Linked DNA regions of Homo sapiens. The protein of the gene in region 1 interacts with the protein of each later gene in a pairwise test. Each region holds a gene or a part of one and is shown in the gene's direction. Other genes may lie near its edges.

What was found. The genes of interacting proteins can lie anywhere in the genome.
Region 2: the proteins of PLOD3 (region 1) and EHMT2 interact in binary tests that used the Homo sapiens proteins (3 or more experiments, as listed by UniProt).

Annotation. Positions count from the first base shown.
Region 1 is NC_000007.14:101,210,966-101,214,712, reverse strand, and holds part of PLOD3 (multifunctional procollagen lysine hydroxylase and glycosyltransferase LH3 precursor), read left to right. Parts: intron 1-1,508; coding exon 1,509-1,606; intron 1,607-1,769; coding exon 1,770-1,871; intron 1,872-2,057; coding exon 2,058-2,183; intron 2,184-2,338; coding exon 2,339-2,460; intron 2,461-2,762; coding exon 2,763-2,867; intron 2,868-2,996; coding exon 2,997-3,122; intron 3,123-3,747. UniProt on the Homo sapiens protein: Multifunctional enzyme that catalyzes a series of essential post-translational modifications on Lys residues in procollagen. Plays a redundant role in catalyzing the formation of hydroxylysine residues in -Xaa-Lys-Gly- sequences in collagens.
Region 2 is NC_000006.12:31,891,026-31,894,772, reverse strand, and holds part of EHMT2 (histone-lysine N-methyltransferase EHMT2), read left to right. Parts: intron 1-1,110; exon of another isoform or gene 1,111-1,411; intron 1,412-1,862; coding exon 1,863-1,947; intron 1,948-2,038; coding exon 2,039-2,079; intron 2,080-2,210; coding exon 2,211-2,366; intron 2,367-3,747. UniProt on the Homo sapiens protein: Histone methyltransferase that specifically mono- and dimethylates 'Lys-9' of histone H3 (H3K9me1 and H3K9me2, respectively) in euchromatin.

The DNA of each region.
Region 1 (3,747 bases):
GGCATGCGCCACCACGCCCAGCTCATTTTGTATTTTTAGTAGAGACAGGGTTTCACCATGGTGGCCAGGCTAGTCTCGAACTCCCAACCTCAGGTGATCCGCCTGCCTCAACCTCCCAAAGTGCTGGGATTACAGGCATGAGCCACTGTGCCCGGTCTACTTCTGTGATTCCATTTAACAAAGGGAAGGTCCCTGGTTATCCTTCTTGTACAGATGAGGAAAACAGCTTGTGGAGGGGTTGGTGACTTGCCTCAGGGGATGGGGAGAACGGGGAGAGAGAGAGGCCAGGCACGGTGCCTCACGCCTGTAATCCCAACATTTTGGGAGGCCCAGGCAGGAGGATCACTTGAGGTCAGGAGTTTGAGACCAGCCTGGCCAACATGGCGAAAACCCGTCTCTACTAAAAAAAAGTACAAAAATGAGCTGGGCGTGGTGGCGGGTGCCTGTAATCCCAGCTATTCAGAAGGCTGAGGCAGGAGAATCACTGGAACCCGGGAGGCAGAGCTTGCAGTGAGCCGAGATTGCGCCACTGCACTCCTGCCTGGGTGACAGAGTGAGATTCCTTCTCAAAAAAAAAAAAGGCCAGGTGCGACAGCTCACATCTGTAATCCCAGCACTTTGGAAGGCTGAGGCGGGCAGATCATGAAGTCAGAAGTTTGAGACCAGCCTGGCTGACATAGTGAAACCCAGTCTCTACTAAATATACAAAAATTAGGCTGGGTGTGGTGGCTCATGCTTGTAATCCTAGCACTTTGGGAGGCCGAGGCAGGTGGATCACCTGAGGTCAGGAGTTCAAGGCCAGCCTGGTCGACATGGTGAAACCCTGTCTCTACTAAAAACACAAAAATTAGCCGGGCATGGTGGTGCGCGCCTGTAATCCTGGCTACCCGGGAGGCTGAGGAAGGAGAATCGCTTGAACCCTGGAGGTGGAAGTTGCAATGAGCCAAGATCGTGCCACTGCACTCCAGCCTGCGTGTTGGGAGTGAGACTCCATCTCAGCATAAAAAACAAAAAATACAAATACAAAAATTAGCCAGGTGTAGTGGCATGTGCCCATAGTCTCAGCTACCTGAAAGGCTGAGGCAAGAGAATCTTTTGAACTCAGGAGGCAGAGGTTGCAGTGAGCCGAGACCACGCCATTGCACTCCAGCCTGGGTGACAGAGTGAGACTCCATCTCAAAAAATAAAAATAAAAAAAAAAAAAAACAAGGAGAGAGAGAATATGAGGAGGGGTAGGGATGCTGAGGCTCCTACTGGCCTCCCGCTCAGCTCACCCTCCCCTTCCTCGCCCAGCTGCGGTGTGATCACGCAGGTAGTAGGCAGTGGAGCTCTCTGGGCCAGCAGCCTGGTCAGAACCCAAAGGTTCCTGCCCACAACGAGCCACACTCCAGGATAGCCCTGGTGTCCCTTTATTCCCTGGAGAATTTGGGACCCCATATTTAGAAGAATGTGTTGCTTGGTAGCTCCCAGAGAAAGGGGGTCTGAAGCCTGGCCTTTTTCTTCCCCAGATGAAGTGGTTTTAAAGTTTGATCGGAACCGTGTGCGTATCCGGAACGTGGCCTACGACACGCTCCCCATTGTGGTCCATGGAAACGGTCCCACTAAGGTGCCACCAGTGGTCTCAACCCCCGCCCCGCCCTGCCCCAACCCCCAGGCACCTCCAACCCTTCTGAGAAGCTGGCCCTTCCCAGCCCCCATATCAGAGGTGCCTGACCCCCACCTCCACCCCTGGAGGCCTCAGCCACTCAGCCTCAGTCTGTCCCCAACAGCTGCAGCTCAACTACCTGGGAAACTACGTCCCCAATGGCTGGACTCCTGAGGGAGGCTGTGGCTTCTGCAACCAGGACCGGAGGACACTCCCGGGGGGGCAGGTGAGGTGGGGGTGCCAGGGAGGGGCACGAGAGGGCAGCGTGCTGAGCAGGAGGTACAAGGACAGCGGACTGGGGGGCGGTGGGGGCATCGCTCCTGGGTCCCTGCACCTGTCAGGGTGGAGGTTGGGTGGGGGCAGCAGGGAAGTCCGGGCTTCTCTCTGAGTCCCTGCGTGTTGCATCTTCCAGCCTCCCCCCCGGGTGTTTCTGGCCGTGTTTGTGGAACAGCCTACTCCGTTTCTGCCCCGCTTCCTGCAGCGGCTGCTACTCCTGGACTATCCCCCCGACAGGGTCACCCTTTTCCTGCACAACAACGTGAGACTCCCCTGTTGGAGCCTCTCCTGAGGGACCCTTTCCCTGCCCTGATCAGAACTCTCGTGCCCCCACCCCCATCTCCTTCCTGCACCCCCATCCCTCAGGTGCCGCCTCCCTGCCCTCTGAGCCCATCCCCCTATGTCTTCCCCTCCCAGGAGGTCTTCCATGAACCCCACATCGCTGACTCCTGGCCGCAGCTCCAGGACCACTTCTCAGCTGTGAAGCTCGTGGGGCCGGAGGAGGCTCTGAGCCCAGGCGAGGCCAGGGACATGGCCATGTGAGCGGGTGCTTGCGGGGAGGAGAGGGTGGGATGAGGCTGTAGGGTCAGGGGTGCTGCCACCTGCTGCCTGGCCCTTGCCTCACCTGTCACCCATCCAGCCCCTCCTGGGCCTCCCCATTCGCATCCTTGCAGCCCCCATGCTGTCACTCCTGCCCTTGCCAGCTCACCCAGACAGCAGAGAGCCTGGGGAAGGAAGGATAGACACTGCCTCCCTCCTCTTCTCCTGGGGGCATGGGCCAGTTACCCCATCCACACCGCCTCCCCACCTGCCGCCGTCTCAGCTCGCCTCTCACCTCCAGGGACCTGTGTCGGCAGGACCCCGAGTGTGAGTTCTACTTCAGCCTGGACGCCGACGCTGTCCTCACCAACCTGCAGACCCTGCGTATCCTCATTGAGGAGAACAGGTGGCTTACCCCCTCTCCCCGCAGCCGGAGGGCACCCCAACAGGCCCCGGGAACCCCACTCCTGCCCTGGGCACCGGGCTCCCCAGGCCTGCTCCCGTCTGCCCAGCCCTCACCCCCACCTGTCCGCAGGAAGGTGATCGCCCCCATGCTGTCCCGCCACGGCAAGCTGTGGTCCAACTTCTGGGGCGCCCTGAGCCCCGATGAGTACTACGCCCGCTCCGAGGACTACGTGGAGCTGGTGCAGCGGAAGCGAGTGTGAGTCCCGCCAGCCTGCAGCCCCCCGCCTCCTCCGACCCGGGGCCCAGGTAGACCCAAGCCCCCTACTCTCAGGGGTTTGGAGTGGTCACCAGTCAGAGGTGCCATGAGGCTGGCTGCAGTGGCTCACACTTTTGATGCCACCACTTTGGGAGGCTGAGGTAGGAGGACTGCTTGAGCCTGGGAGTTTAAGATCAGCCTGAGCAACGTAGCAAGAGCCTATCTCTACAAAAAACTTAAAATATTAGCTGGGCACGGTGGTGCGTGCCTGTGGTCCCAGCTACTACGGAGGCTGAGGTGGGAGAATCACTTGAACTTGGGAGGTTGAGGCTGCAGTGAGCCATGTTTCCACCACTGCACTCCAGCCTGGAAACAGAGGGAGACCCTTTCTCAAGAAAATAAAAAACAAGGGCCGGCCGCGGTGGCTGACGCCTGTAATCCCAGCACTTTGGAAGGCAGAGGCAGGTGGATTACTCGAGGTCAGGAGTTCGAGACCAGCCTGGCCAACATGGTGAAACCCCATCTCTACCAAAAATACAAAAATCAGCCGGGCATGGTGGCTGGCACCTCTAATCCCAGCTATTTGGGAGGCTAAGGTGGGAGAATTGCTTGAACCTGGGAGGTG
Region 2 (3,747 bases), on another chromosome or scaffold:
CTAGTCGAGAGGCTGAGGCAGGAGAATCACTTGCAGTGAGCCAAGATCGCGCCACTGCGGTTCAGCCTGGGCAACAGAGCGAGACTCAAAAAAAATAGCACAATTCTAACAATATGCCACCATCACTGCTGATGAACTGGATAAGAGGGGACTAGTGTCACGTAAAATTTACCATCTAAAAAACAATTTTAGGCCAGGCGCAGTGGCTCACGCCTGTAATCTCAGCACTTTGGAGGCCGAGGCGGGAGGATCACCTGAGGTCAGGAGTTTGAGACCAGCCTGGCCAACATAGTGAAACCCTGTCTCTACTAAAAATACAAAAATTAGGCCAGGCGGGGTGCCTCACGCATGTAATCCCAGCACTTTGGGAGGCCAAGGCAGGTGGATCACCTGAGGTCAGGAGTTCGAGACCAGCCGGACGAACATGGTGAAACCCCATCTCTATTAAAAATACAAAATTAGCCGGGCATGGTGGTACATGCCTGTAACAGTCCGCTACTTGGGAGGCTGAGGCAGGAGAATCGCTTGAATCCAGGAGGCAGAGGTTGTAGTTAGCCGAGATCCTGCCATTGCACTCCAGCCTGGACAACAAGAGCAAAACTCTGTCTCAAAAAAAAAAACAAAACAAAAATTAGCCGGGCGTGGTGGCATGTGCCTGTAGTTCCAGCTACTCAGGAGGCAGAGGTGAGAGAAACGCTTGAACCTGGGAGGTAGAGGCTGCAGTGAACTGAGATCGCGCCACTGCACTCCAGCTTGGGCAACAGAGTGAGACTCCATCTAAAAATTTAAAAATAAAATAAAAAACATTTTTAAGTATATAATTTAATGGTATTAAATACTTTCATCATGTGCAATCATCAGTCACCATAACTCATCTTGTAAAACTGAAACTCTGTACCCATTAAAACATAACTCTCCATTCCCTCCACCCCCTAGCCCCTGGCAAGGACCACTGTCCTTTCTTTCTCTATAAATTTGAGTAAGTACTTTATCTAAGTGTAATCATACAGTATTTATCCTTTTGTGACTGGCTTATTTCACTTAGCATAATGTCCTCAAGGTTCATCTATGTTGTACCATGTCAGAATTTCTTTCCTTTCACCTGGGCAGCATACCAAGACCCCATCTCTAAAAGAAGTTTAAAAGAATGTTTCAAAGGCCAGGCCCAGTGACTCACGCCTGTAATCCCGTACTTTCTGGGGAGGATCACTTGACACCAGGAGTTCAAGACCAGCCTGGGCAACATGGCAAGACCTCTTCTCTACCAAAAAAAAAAATTAAGAAGACATTAGTTAGGCATTGTGACATGTGCCTGTAATCCCAGCTTCCCAGGAAGCTGAGGCAGGAGAATGGCTTGAGTCCAGTTCGAGGCTGAAGTGAGCCATAGTCATGCCACTGCACTCCATCCTGGGTAACAGAATGAGACCTTATCTCTTAAAAAAAGTATATCTTTCCTTTTTATGGCTGAATGTTATTCCATTGTGTATAAATGCCACATTTTGCTTATCCATTCATCTGTCAGTGGCACTTGAGTTGCTTCCGCACCTCAGCTGTTGTAAACAGTCCTGCTGTGTATATGGCCACATATAAAAGGTCTTTTAACTTTATTAAGCTTTGTTTTCTCATCTGTAAAATGGAAAAGGGCCTGCTCTGCATGGTTGCAGAGATGAGTGAGTGTTAGTGTGCTTGACACTCTTCCTCTGAGGAAATAGCACCCGTGGTTGCCAGTTTGTGGCTACTGGAGCCTCACATGGCATTTGGAGGTGTGGCTCACTACCCCACCCCCGCCTGGGGCTCCAGGCTAACCCAGGCAAAACTGTAGGTGCTCTCTGACCCTCAGTGTGCTCCCTCTCGGCCCACAGCCCCCGGTCCCTGAGAAGCGGCCCCCTGAAATACAGCATTTCCGCATGAGTGATGATGTCCACTCACTGGGAAAGGTGACCTCAGGTCAGTCCCATCCCCCACCCCCGGTGGCTTGATGTGGTCTGTTCTGAAGGTTTCGGTGATAGGCCCCACACCATTCTCTCTCTTCTTCCAGATCTGGCCAAAAGGAGGAAGCTGAACTCAGGAGGTGGCCTGGTAAGCAGCAGAGGCAGAGCCTCTACCCCTCGGGGGCTGCTCTGAGGGAGGGTCAGAGGTGGGGCTGCATCCCATCCTCAGTAGAAATGCGCAGGGTGTCAGTGGCCTCAATTTTTCTGATCTTTTTCTAGTCAGAGGAGTTAGGTTCTGCCCGGCGTTCAGGAGAAGTGACCCTGACGAAAGGGGACCCCGGGTCCCTGGAGGAGTGGGAGACGGTGGTGGGTGATGACTTCAGTCTCTACTATGATTCCTACTCTGTGGATGAGCGCGTGGACTCCGACAGCAAGGTGAGACAGAGCTGGTCTGCCCTCCCCGCCGGTGCTCCCCCAGGGCTGGGGCTCACTGTCCAGTCCTCCTTGTTCCCTGTTTTTCTGCTTTCTGTCCTTTTTATCTTCTGAATATCCACTAAGTCATTGCCCCATGCTGTCTATAACTCCTTTTTTTTGTGGGGGGAGACGGAATCTCATTCTGTCGCCCAGGCTGGAGCGCAATATCACGATCTGGGCTCACTGCAACCTCTGTCTCCAGGGTTAAAGCAATTCTCCTGCCTCAGCCTCCCGAGTAGCTGGGATTACAGGCACCTGCCACCACGCCCGGCTAATTTTTGTATTTTTAGTAGAGACGGGGTTTCCCTGTGTTGGCCAGGCTGGTCTCTAACTCCTGACCTTAGTTGATCCACCCACCTTGGCCTCCCAAAGTGCTGGGATTACAGCTGTGAGCCACCGCGCCCAGCTGTAACTCATTTTCAATGTGTATTCTGCCCGTTTCATCCACAAAGGTGGCCACCACCCTGCACATGGGATTTAGTATTCTTTTTTTTTTAATCAGCTAATGAAATGACCATTTAACAGACATGTACTGTTTAAAAAAAGAAAACAAAAAAAGAAATGACCAGAAAGCACTTTTTTAAAACATACGTTATGCTGTTTATATAAAATTCAAAAGCATTGCATTGTCATTTATTTGCTTATTTCGTTGCTCTTTGTCTGGTTTTATCTTATATGTTTGCCTACACAGTAGAATGTTTAGTCTCTCTGATTTTGCCTTTTATTTAACATTTTATCATGAAAACTTGCAAGCATAATCAAAAGAGTAGAATAGGGAGCCCCCATGTACCCAATACACAGCTCCAGCCATTATCAGTACACAGTCCATCTTGACCCATCTGTACATCTCCCAGCACACACACCTACTAGGTTATTTTAAAGCAAATCCCAGACCTCATATCATTTTACCTAAACATATATCCATATAGATTTGTAAATATAAGGCCTCTTTTTGTCGTTCAACATCATTACACTACTGTTTTCACACCTAAAAAAACTTACCGATTTCTTAATACCATCAAATATCCTGTCAGTCTTCACATTTCCTCAGCTCTCACAAATGGTTTTTGTCAAGATCCAAATGAGGCCCACACCTTGATTTGATTAACATTTGTCTTAGGTCAGCCAGGCACAGTGGCTCACGCCTGTAATCCCAATACTTTGGGAGGCCAAGGCGGGCAGATCACGTGAGGTTGGGAGTTCGAGACCAGCCTGATCAACATGGAGAAACCCCGTCTCTACTGAAAAAAATACAAAATTAGCTGGACGTAGTGGTACGTGCCTGTAATTCCAGCTACTCGGGAGGCTGAGGCAGGAGAATCGCTTGAACCTGGGAGGTGGA